Linked DNA regions of Homo sapiens. The protein of the gene in region 2 purifies or fractionates together with the protein of the main gene of each other region. This does not show direct contact. Each region holds a gene or a part of one and is shown on either strand. Other genes may lie near its edges.

What was found. The genes of interacting proteins can lie anywhere in the genome.
Region 1: the proteins of ACVR1B (region 2) and PEG10 purify together in Homo sapiens (affinity purification with western blotting; one study listed by BioGRID). This does not show direct contact.

Annotation. Positions count from the first base shown.
Region 1 is NC_000007.14:94,661,883-94,667,288, reverse strand, and holds part of PEG10 (retrotransposon-derived protein PEG10), read right to left. Parts: intron 3,956-5,406; coding exon 2,755-3,955; coding exon of another isoform or gene 1,607-2,754; 3' UTR 1-1,606.
Region 2 is NC_000012.12:51,981,995-51,987,400, reverse strand, and holds part of ACVR1B (activin receptor type-1B isoform a precursor), read right to left. Parts: intron 4,716-5,406; coding exon of another isoform or gene 4,593-4,715; intron 4,058-4,592; coding exon of another isoform or gene 4,053-4,057; exon of another isoform or gene 3,409-4,052; intron 3,403-3,408; coding exon 3,235-3,402; intron 2,210-3,234; coding exon 2,053-2,209; intron 584-2,052; coding exon 459-583; intron 1-458. UniProt on the Homo sapiens protein: Transmembrane serine/threonine kinase activin type-1 receptor forming an activin receptor complex with activin receptor type-2 (ACVR2A or ACVR2B).

The sequences.
Region 1 (5,406 bases), on a different chromosome or scaffold from region 2:
TGGAGTCTCAGCAACCAGGCAGGAAAATGACACAAATCCTGCAGCAGGGTCAATGGCAGTAGCAAAGAATTAAACAGAAAAAGAGAGGTTAGATAAAACAGTTCAAGGTAGTAGCAAGGGACCAGGCTAAAGGAAGTCAGGCAGTCCCAGGTTAGCACAAAGCTTCCAGGGGACATCAGAGGTGTCACTGGGCTGAAGACAACTCTTGTGTTGTCCGTTGCTTTGAGTCCTTTGAGTTGCTTTCTGAGGCTTTTCATCCATTGGCAGCTTCACATCAGCTCCATCCTCTAGAGGGACCTTTTTCATTACGTGGATTCTGATCCTTTTGAAGTGGTTACCATCAAGTAATGTGGAGCTCACTAAGGAAGTCCACATCCTCAAGACAGTGTCCACAGCCCTAATTCCTCTTCTTCAAAGATGTCCCCCTTCCAGGCATAGGAGTGTGAATCTGGGTGCTAAATCATTTCTCCTCTCTCCACACATCCTAATGCTACAGTCTAATGAGGGGACTGAAGATGAAATGCCCAGATGCATATGGAGGCAGACACATGGATAGATTCTTCCAAAACGTCAGCTGGTGCTTTTCCAGCCAATTAAGAACACTCATGAAAATTCTTTCTGAAGTACCAGGACAAATCTCTTAAGAGTTGGGTATGGGATTTTGGAGTCCTTTTGATGTGCTACTCTTTAGCCCTCAAAGGTGATTGAGAGGTGGTCACATTTCATGAACATCTAACAACGCTGGAGCCACCAGTAATCTCTGGTTACCAGGTTTAATGCTTTGTGGAAGCCATCATGGCATGATGATGGTAAGGTGTTGTGTCAAAGCCGGAGTCATTGGGTACATGTGATTTGCACCATGATGTGAAGACATAGTCTTAACATGCAAGAGTCCATCTGAGAGAGCACTTTCTTTTCAGGCCTGAGATGTTTCATGTCACAAGGGTTTTTCCTGCTCCTGGGAGAACCAGTCGAGTTGCTGCTCCTTGAGAATTAACAGAACCATGGAAATGGAGTTTGAAGACGGTGAAGTTTCTAAGGGTGCAGCGAGAGGATCACGGAAGCCTTTCCACACTGCACCGATAATTTTGGCTTCCTTAATAAGGCCTCAGTCCTCCAGTGATTTAAAAAGAGGGTACCGAAACCGCAAGAAAAGTCATGTCCTCCTCCTCCTCGTCTCCCCCTCCATAAAGAAATCAGCATTTCCTGCGTTTGTATCAGCTTCTCTGTAAATGTTAAACAGCAAATTTGGCAGCCTATAATTTAGATGGTGATGGAGGTTTTGGCAGGTAAAACCCAGACTTCCAGGACTGGCTGGAAAGTAAACTTATTAATTATTTTAGTTAGATTGGCAGTCAAGGTGGAAAAATGAGAGATCATTTATTGGCAAATACTCTGTTGCTCTCAGAAAATGTTGAAGGTCTTTTGGTGCTTTAGGATGTGTGCCAGTCCAGAGTGGCCCTAACCTTCCATAGCCGTTTCAGAGAGGATGTGCCTCAGGTGGCCTGAAGATACAGTAGCCTAAAATTTAGCACACAGTCACTGATTGAGAAGCTGAACAGGAATAAATTTTGAGGGCAGAGATCCTGAAGGACATGACAGGTATTTACAGGGTACTGTAAGATGGAGGCGGCGGCGGTGGTGGTGGTGGAGGCGGCGGCTGTGGCGGCGGGTACTGTGGTACCGGAGGCTGGCGGTACCAGTGTGGATTCCAAGTGATCATCACAGGTACATATAGTGATCTTCCTTGTCCGTCTCGTCCCACTGGGTACCAGGCGAATCCTACTGGGTAGGTCGGGTACGCGGCATATGTGGGGTATGTTTGGTATCCAGGTATTTGAGGTACGAATTCAGTGTACGTTGCCAGGTGTGCTTGGTCTTCTAAATTTGGAATAGATAGGCGAGGATACTGATTCTGGATAGTAAAATTGTTTGGAGCTCGGCAATCATAAGAAACTTGCAGTTTCCACCCCCTCTTCACCTGGAGAACTTGGGCTCCATTAGGTGCAATCGTTGGAGTAATTAGCCCATCTTTTACATTTCTTGCCACAAAATCTCGAAGAGCTGCCATTTCAGGTTCGGACAGTGAATACACATGTCCACTGGGAATACTGTGTGCTCCAGGTATCATTTCTATGTGAGGGTCAACCAGGCGGTGATCTGGGTAGACGTGCTCATCTACTGGAGTGTACACATTCTGGACATAGTAATACCTCACTGGTTGGTAAACTCTGTATCCATCTACTGGATAATAGAGTGGCGGTTGTGGTGCTGGTGGTGGGAGCGATGGTGGTATTGGAGAATACATCCGGCAGTGGTAGCGGCAGTATTCAGAATCAAAGACGATAGATCGAGTGCTCCATGTGATATTGGGATCATGTGTGCTCAGCCAGCGAACCCCTAGGACGACAGGGAAGAATGGAGACTGAGTCACATCAAATGACAGCACCTCTCGGTGATCTCCCAGGTCAACTATCAGGTCGTGAGTTTCGTGGACAACTGGGCCCGATGCTATGGGGCGCCCATCAATTGCTTCCACAAGTATTGGCCAGTCCTTGATTCTTAGAGGAATTCCATTTTGAGCAACATATTCGTGATCAATGAAGTTGCCAGAAGCACCAGAATCGATCATGGCTCGGACGAACAGGGTGTGTCTGCCCGGAAGATGAATCTGGAGCATCACTTGCAAGTGTGGAGATGAGGCATCATCTTGTGGGGACCTTATTATTTCTGGCCCGGTCGCTGAAGGTCCCTCTACAGCGGGGCCGGGGAGTTTCCCGCCGGCGAAGACTTTGAGGCCTTGGCAGGACAATTGTCAGCGTAGTGACCTCCTGTTCCACAGTAGAGGCACAGGTTCAGCTTTCTGCGTCTTTCTTTTTCTTCCTGCGTCAGGCGCATGCGGGCACCTCCCACCGGCTCGGTTGGATCTACCTGGTGGTGGCTTGCAATGTGAGGCAACACCAGCGCCCGGGGTGGCGAGCGTGGCTTGCGAGCTGCAGCAGCCCTGGCCAGCCTTCTCTCAATGTGAATGCACTGCCCAATCAGAGCAGACAGCGACTTGGCGACCTCGAGGTGGGAGAGCTCCTCCTGAATGTGGTCGCTGAGGCCCTCGTGGTACTGGTCAATCAGCGCAGGCTCGTTCCAATCCAGGTCCTGGGCAATCATCTGGAAAGCATTGGAGTAGTCGATGACAGACCCCATGCCTTGGCGCAGGCGTCTGATCTTGCGTTTGGCAACCTCTCGCCTCTGAGGGTCTTCAAAGACATGCTTCATTTCCATCATGAAAGCTGGGTAGTTGTGCATCAGGTAGTGGGAGCGCTCCAGCTTTGCTGAGGCCCAACGGGCAGCACGGCCGGTCATCATGCTTGTCACGAAGCAGACACGGACACGATCAACTGAGAAATCCCTGGTGCTCTTTTCCATGAAGATCTGGCACTGGGCCATGAAAGGAGCCAGCATGTCTGGGTTGCCATCGAACTTCTCTGGGAGGTCTTCTGGGCACTCTTCCTCTATTGGAGGGGGTGGGGCAGCAGCTGCTGCAGCACCGCGGAGCTCGATGTCATCATCCTCATCCTCAGGGGTGGGTTCCACTTGCTCTCGAAGGGTGGTGTTCTCCTCTGTGAGCTTCTGCACCTGGCTCTGCAGGTTGTTGTTCTCCTCCGACTGCTTCATGACCTTCTCTCTTAAGTTGTTGATCTCTTCAGAGAGCTCGTCCCTTCTTCGTTCGGTCATGTTGGGGACACACGCACTCTTATGGCCGGTGTGCTTGGAGTTGTTGTTGTTGTTGTTGTTGGGGGGAGGGGGAGGAGGAGGAGGTGGGCAGTCGGGACCCAGGGTGACGGTTGGGGTGGGAGGAGACCTCCCAGCTGTAGCTTCACTTCTGTGGGGATGGAGGCCTGGATCCTGGCCCCCTCTTCCACTCCTTCTTTTTTTTGTTTTCAAAACCCGCTTATTTCTGTAAATAAAGATAAATGTATGTATAAATCCAACTTATACATTCAAAGCAGCAAAAGCAGACACAAAGGATTTGGTATTTAAATTATCCCTTGCTCTACGTGCTTACATTAATAATTAGTGAACAAAGAAAATAAACTCTCAAGAGAAAGTTAGTAATCAGCACCATATATAACAAAAAGCAAAGTACTTTTTGATGTTCAAATGACCTTGTCTTCCTCAAAGGCCACCTGTTCATTATGATTCAACAATACATTATCAACAGCATGCTTACCTTTATAAACTATAAAAGAATGTTGAAACCCTCTAAACAAGTAGTTTTGTATTCAAACACAGCAAGAAACTTCAAGGCAAACATGGATACAAAATCAATTATGCAAATTAAAGCCAAAATAATAACTTTTGTTATTAAAGAAGCCAGGCCAAAAATAGTTAATACTGCAACTAATAGAATCTCATTAAAGCAAGAAGGGAGTATTAAAATCACAATGCATGTATTCATCAGCCCTGTGGGCAGGAGGGTACTCTGGCCAACTGTCACAACCCTATTCCACTGCCACCGAGAAGGTAACTGGTTATCAAATCAAACAACCACCACCACAAAAACCACAGGACTGCCTAAATTACTTTTCTGACCATAATTTAAATCCCCAAAGAAAATTCTCTATGGGACAGAAATGGCACTAAGCAGCAATATGTGTATGTCAGTTTCCTTTGTCATTATGCAGTCATTCAAGAAATAATAATTGATGCCTCCTAGGAAAAGCTATAAAATGGGACATTCAAAGAAGCCCAATAATAGTATACCTCAAACTAATTATGAGGACTTAATTAAATAGTGCAGGTAAATTATGTAGTGAGTATTCAACAATGGTTAGCTGATATGAACAAAGTTATTAATTAGAAAATAGAAAGGTGACTATCTGTGTAAAAAGAGTGGGATTAAAAGAGGGAGGGGCTGCAACTATAGCAACATGGGCATGCATTTCCCACCTAAAGACATTTACTTTTTTAAAAATACTGTGTTGGTCAAACAAATTCAAGGCCTTATTTGTCTTGCAGTTTACCAGTTTGTAATCCATAGTTTTTAATGAAGATTTGTCAGCATAGCCCCAAATGAAGGTTTGTAATGTTAAGGTGGGACAGGGCTGCACTCCTAGGGGGTGAGTGGATGTGTGTGGGGAGGTGGGGGTAGGGTGTGTGTTTAAGCATTCTAATTATGAGTGTAATGACAATCACACACATAAAAATCCTGACACAGTGTCTGCCTGTGTACTTCCTGAAAATACAGTTAAATGCATTTAGAATGATTTAATTATTTTAAATTTTATTAATAATCTCAAGTCCCATATTTGGAAAATTTAAATATATAAAAAGTTTAAAACATAATATGTAAAAGTTTAAAAAAGTTTAAAAAACTTTGATTTAAAAAGTTTAAAACTTTTAAAGAAA
Region 2 (5,406 bases):
TTTTAAGAAAAATCTATGCACTTTTATAAATTTAGAAATTAGCACTATTATTTTAACAATGAAACAGCAGGGTTTCCCATGAATGTGGCTTGGGAGCCACCGCGTTAGAATATACTGCTTCTGATGTGAAGGAGACCACTGCATGAATCCCGTGCTATGCGCACCGGGGCACTCCCCGCCACGGACTAATAAAACAATGTTTGTTTGTTTATAAAGCCAAACGAGCCTTCAGAATGGTTACCATAACACACAACGCTATTCAACAAACTGATCCCTGAAGAATAAACGCACCCTAAGCACAGCTACCTCCACACCTTTGATGGCAACCTTAAACGATGATTCAGGCTCTGGCAACAGGCATCCAACAGGTTGTAAAAAGAAAGGGGGCAGTAAAACAGCTTTGGGTGATCCAGCATCCTGGAATGGGAGGTAGGAGCAAAGGCAAAAAAGAAAGGTACCTCCAGAATTGCATCTTCGAGCAATCTCCCAATATACAAGCCCGAGGGCATAAATATCAGCACATTTAAAGGAGTCAAAGTGTTTCATATTAATGGTTTCATCAAGTACTTCAGGGGCCATGTATCTGCAATAGCAAAACAAACATGGTCACGCACAGAAAATGATGACTGCTCTCTTTAAATCAAAGTATTGATTCAGGAGCCCTCTGAATGTGGAAGAGTATCACCCTGATAAAGTCCCTTGGGGCAGAAGAAGTGTACACATCTCTTCATTGCAAACTCCCATGTTTTAAATTTGATTCTAAATACTTCAGCACAGATTTGGCAATACCAGGCTACTCTGATGTGTATCTCTATTTTTAACCATCAAGATTTGTTTATTTGGCCAGGTGCGGTGGCTCACGCCTGTAATCCCAGCACTTTGGGAGGCCAAGGTGGGCGGATCACCTGAGGGCAGGAGTTGGAGACCAGCCTGGCCAACATCGCGAAACCCCATCTCTATTACAAATACAAAAAATTAGCCAGGCATGGTGGCAGGCGCCTGTAATCCCAGCTACTCGGGAGGCTGAGGCAGGAGAATCACTTGAACCCGGGAGGCGGAGGCTGCAGTGAGCCATGACTGTGCCATTGCACTCCAGCTTGGGCAACAAGAGCGAAACTCCATATCAAAAAAACAAAGAGAGAGTAAAGATTTGTTTATTTGAAGCATGTTTTGACTTCTTGGCAGAAGTACTTGTAATGTGGGTCACAGGGGCAGTAACAGTACCTAATATTTGGTTGACACCAGGGTCCTTCACTTTATTGAATGTAGTCACAGTGATGGGTTGAGCTTAAGTTTCATTCCGAACTGCTTTTGTTATCTTACCTGACTATAGATATGTCAAAATTAATTCTAGAGGTGGTCAGCGGCACCCTTAATGACTCTGAGTAGTAATTATGAGTAATTACTATGATTCCAGCCACCCCAGCCCCCACAATAAATCAGGGGATAATCTTAATTAAATTCATTTAGATTCAGCAGATTTCCACCTCTTCCACTCTATTAAAAGGCAGTCCCATTTCCAACTCATGAAGTCAATTTGCAATCACAGCTCCTTACTTCTTACCTCACTTCTGCATGAAGTGGGAAGCAGGCCCATAATCTTGAAGGGTGCCCCAAATCTCTATCCTGGGTTACCTTTGCTATAGTTTGGCAAATCTGGTCTCCAGTCCCTAAGCACATGCTCCCTGCCTCCTTCACAGCTCTCTGCACAGGAGATGACAGTGTTTTCCCTCTTTCCCGAGCCACACCTGTTGCCTGCTATCCTTCTAAATCCTGCTCTAGATTGTCCTTCTCTACCCTCCGACCTTAATACCACCAACACCAATGTGCATACAGTTTATGGAGCTGTGCTCTCAGCACTTGTATCTGTTAGATGCAGTGATGCAACTTTCCATTGTGGGGAGTGCATGTTCAATTCAACTTTCAGTGGGCTGAGAGCAAGGTCCTCGCCTCCTTTTTCAACACCTCCTTCTCCTGCGCATATGGGAAACGGCACAGATGGGATACTCAGTAGAAGCTGCTTAGCAAGGGCAGAGTCCCAGGCCCTCCTACCGTTTGGTCCCCACCCTCTGATTCGGGGCAATGTCAATGGTGTCAGTGACTGCATCATGACGGACAGCCAGGCCCAGGTCTGCTATGGCACACATGCCATTTTTCTTCACCAGAATGTTCTTTGACTTTAAGTCTCGATGAGCAATTCCAGGCTTCCCTGGCAGAGAAAAAAACAGGGATCTTTACAAAGAGATGATATAAATGTTAAAAGCATAGACTATGCAGCCAGACTGTATAGGTTTGAGTCCTGGCTTTGCCTCCTGCTAATCCAGTGACCCTGGAAAAGTGACTTTAGCCCTCTGTACCTCAGTCTTCTCATCCATAAAATCAGAATGACTACTTATTTCATGGGACTGTTGTGAGGATTAAATGCATTCATGTAGCTAAGTTACGACCATAGAAGGACATGTGTATTTAGCTAATATTTGTATTAATATTTACTACTACTACTCGCCTTCCCTGAGCAAATATGCTCAGGTACAGAAGTGCTGAGGGACTGAAGGGAAGTTGCTGCAATGCCTAGTTCTCAGAAGGAAACAGGCCCGATGATGAGAACTGGCACCGCACAGGCTATAGGAATAGGATCCAACTTTCACGGGTGATTTTCCATTGTGGCCCTGGTCAACCAGGCATCAGGGATCACACCTGCCATTGTGACAAGATCCAGGATCTCCCAAAGAGCCGACATGATAATCAACAAGTAGCAGAGCTTCAGGTCTTCTTCCTCCAGGAAAACCTTCCCAGATTAGTAAGGCCCAGAATCTAATCCACCAAGTGGCCTTTAAGCCAGCTGTCCCCATCAATGAACATGGAAATCACTAAACTGATGTTCCCAGTACACTGGTTTATCTTTTTAGTTCCATTTTTTCTCATGTCTATTGTGGGATTCTAAGATGATTACTCCTTCGTAACAAATGACTATGTCAAGCCACTGATTGACAAGTAGCTGAATATTGATATTATAGGGTTCCTGAGGGAGTTCTATCAAGACAGAGGTGAAGGGAACACCCTGTAGATACCTCACTTAAGTGAAGCTCAAACCTCCTTTCCTTTAAATTAAACTAGAGTTCCTGAGGTCCAGCCCCAACTTCCTCAGTAAAAAGGAATTCTAGGAACTAAATCAGGACACTGCGGACCTTTCATGCCTACACCACTTCGCCGCTCCTGCGCTAGTCCACTCACCTTGGGTGCCCACGATCTCCATGTGCAGGTGTGCCAGCCCACTAGCAGCAGACAAGGCCAGCTTAATCATCCCCTCAATTGTCACTGTGTACCGGTTCAGATAATCAAACAGGGACCCGTGCTCATGATAGTCAGAAACAAGCCACAGCTGTGTCCAGGTGCCATTATCTGCAGAGAACCACAGATGAGTCCCAGAAAAAGTGTAACTATCAGCAAAACAGTGAAGGTTGGTAAGGATGAGTGTATACAACACAAAATCAGGTTAGACTCCTGAATTCACATTTCCCACCTCCATGCCCCCTGAAGCCCCATCTAGCATCCTTTCATTTATAGTGGTCTACCAGTTTGGGACCTCAGTAAGGACAGGGGAACACCATTTCTTTCTTAGGACTGCTCCTGATTTCCTTTAGGTGAACTGTAGGATTCTGAACATTATGTCAAATTTGAAATGTGAGGTACTCAGGAAAGAGGAGGCATATGCCTGGGGAAGGTAACAGCTATCACCAGCTTTGTGTGCAGCACTGCTTTGATCCTGACCAAGACTTGCTCATCTGCACGGGAGAACCACAATGAGCTGGATCTACCACCACCAAACAGGAAAGCCTTGGAGGGCCTCCTGTGTCCCAGCGACCCTCTGAACACAGCCCAAACACAGCACCTGTCTCATCTGTAATGTTTCTTTTCAGTCTGTTGTTCTTACCAGGCTATGATATCTCTGTGAGTAGGAAAGATCTCCTTTATGGATTATTGGATTCCAGGCCAAAAAATGCTTTTCAGTGCATGAATAGACCACTTCCAAGTATTCCCAGAAAGGCATCTCATCCTTCAGAGGAGCAATGGAAGGTAGAGTGCATACACTTTATTTTCTCTTTTACACTAGGGACAGCAGGAAGGAGGAGAGCAGGAGGAGGGAGAAAAAGAAACACCAAAGCCAGGAATCGAATTAAGCCATGCCGTTGTCAATTGGAAGACTGGAAATTGAGTTGAAATCTCCAAAATTCCAGGCTGGCGCTGATTCCAGGGCACCATACTATATATACCCCATGTTAAAAAGGCAAGAACGAGGGAGTCTGATTGTTTCCCTTCCCTGGCCTTAAGGTGGGTTTTGAAAGCCAGATCCCTACTCACACAAGCTGCCAGAATCAATAAAGGGATGGATCCTGGAAACACACACATCTTGGCTTCTCTTATCACAAACAAGGGGCCCACCCAACACACTGCTTCTCGCACTCTAACCAGCCCCAAAGTCCTGAGGACCCTGCTAACAAGTTCAAAGAGAAGACATGATTTGATCCTTTTAAAACATATAAGATTTAAATTTTATCAAAAGGTGATAGTTTTAAAAAGGAATAGCTTACTCAGTGGGAATAAAAATCTTGCTCTTCCCCTTCCTCCCTTGTATTGGAGTCTAAGGCTCCTCAGCTTGGGGGCAGCAGAGACCATTACAACTTCCCATGGCAATGTGAGGAATGAGCAGTCTGCTGTTGTTTCAGGAATGAAAAACAAATAGCATCTTCTGTAGGCTTTGTAGACACTAACTTCTAAATTGCACCATGCCACAGGAGCAAGTCATGTCACAACTGCTAGAGAGACCCTTCCACAATGTGAACCAGCCACTCACAGCATCCTCTCTGTGCTCCGGGTGCCACTACCTGTCCACGTGTCTGTCCCCTTCTTCCTGGGAGCTCTGTGAGGGGAGGGACTGTGTCTTGCTCTTATGTGTGATGGTCCAAGCAGCCAGCAGAGGTCTGGCCCACAGCAGTCAATAAATGTTATAGAATTAATGAATGAAATTTTAATTACTACCCACTATCTTCAGAATGGAATACAATCCTCTCAAAAAGGCCCCTCATAATCTGGCCTCTGCCTCCCTCTCCACCCACAGCCATCCAAGTTACTTGCTGGGCCCCAAACCTCACCTTTGCACATGTCTGCAGTGCTCTTCCCTGCAAGGAAGATTTTTCTTCCTGACCAGTTCTTGCCACCTTTGTCTCAACTGGGCTCAGGTGCGAGTCAGCCCCAATTTGTGCTCAACAGAACAACTCGTGTTTACCTCCTCTAATCACCCTTACTCGTCATCCTTTGCTAGTCAATGAGGTCCTCAAACATAGGGAGGTGCCTGGCACATAAGAGATTCAAAAACTAAAGCAATAAAAGGGAGAGGAAGAAGGA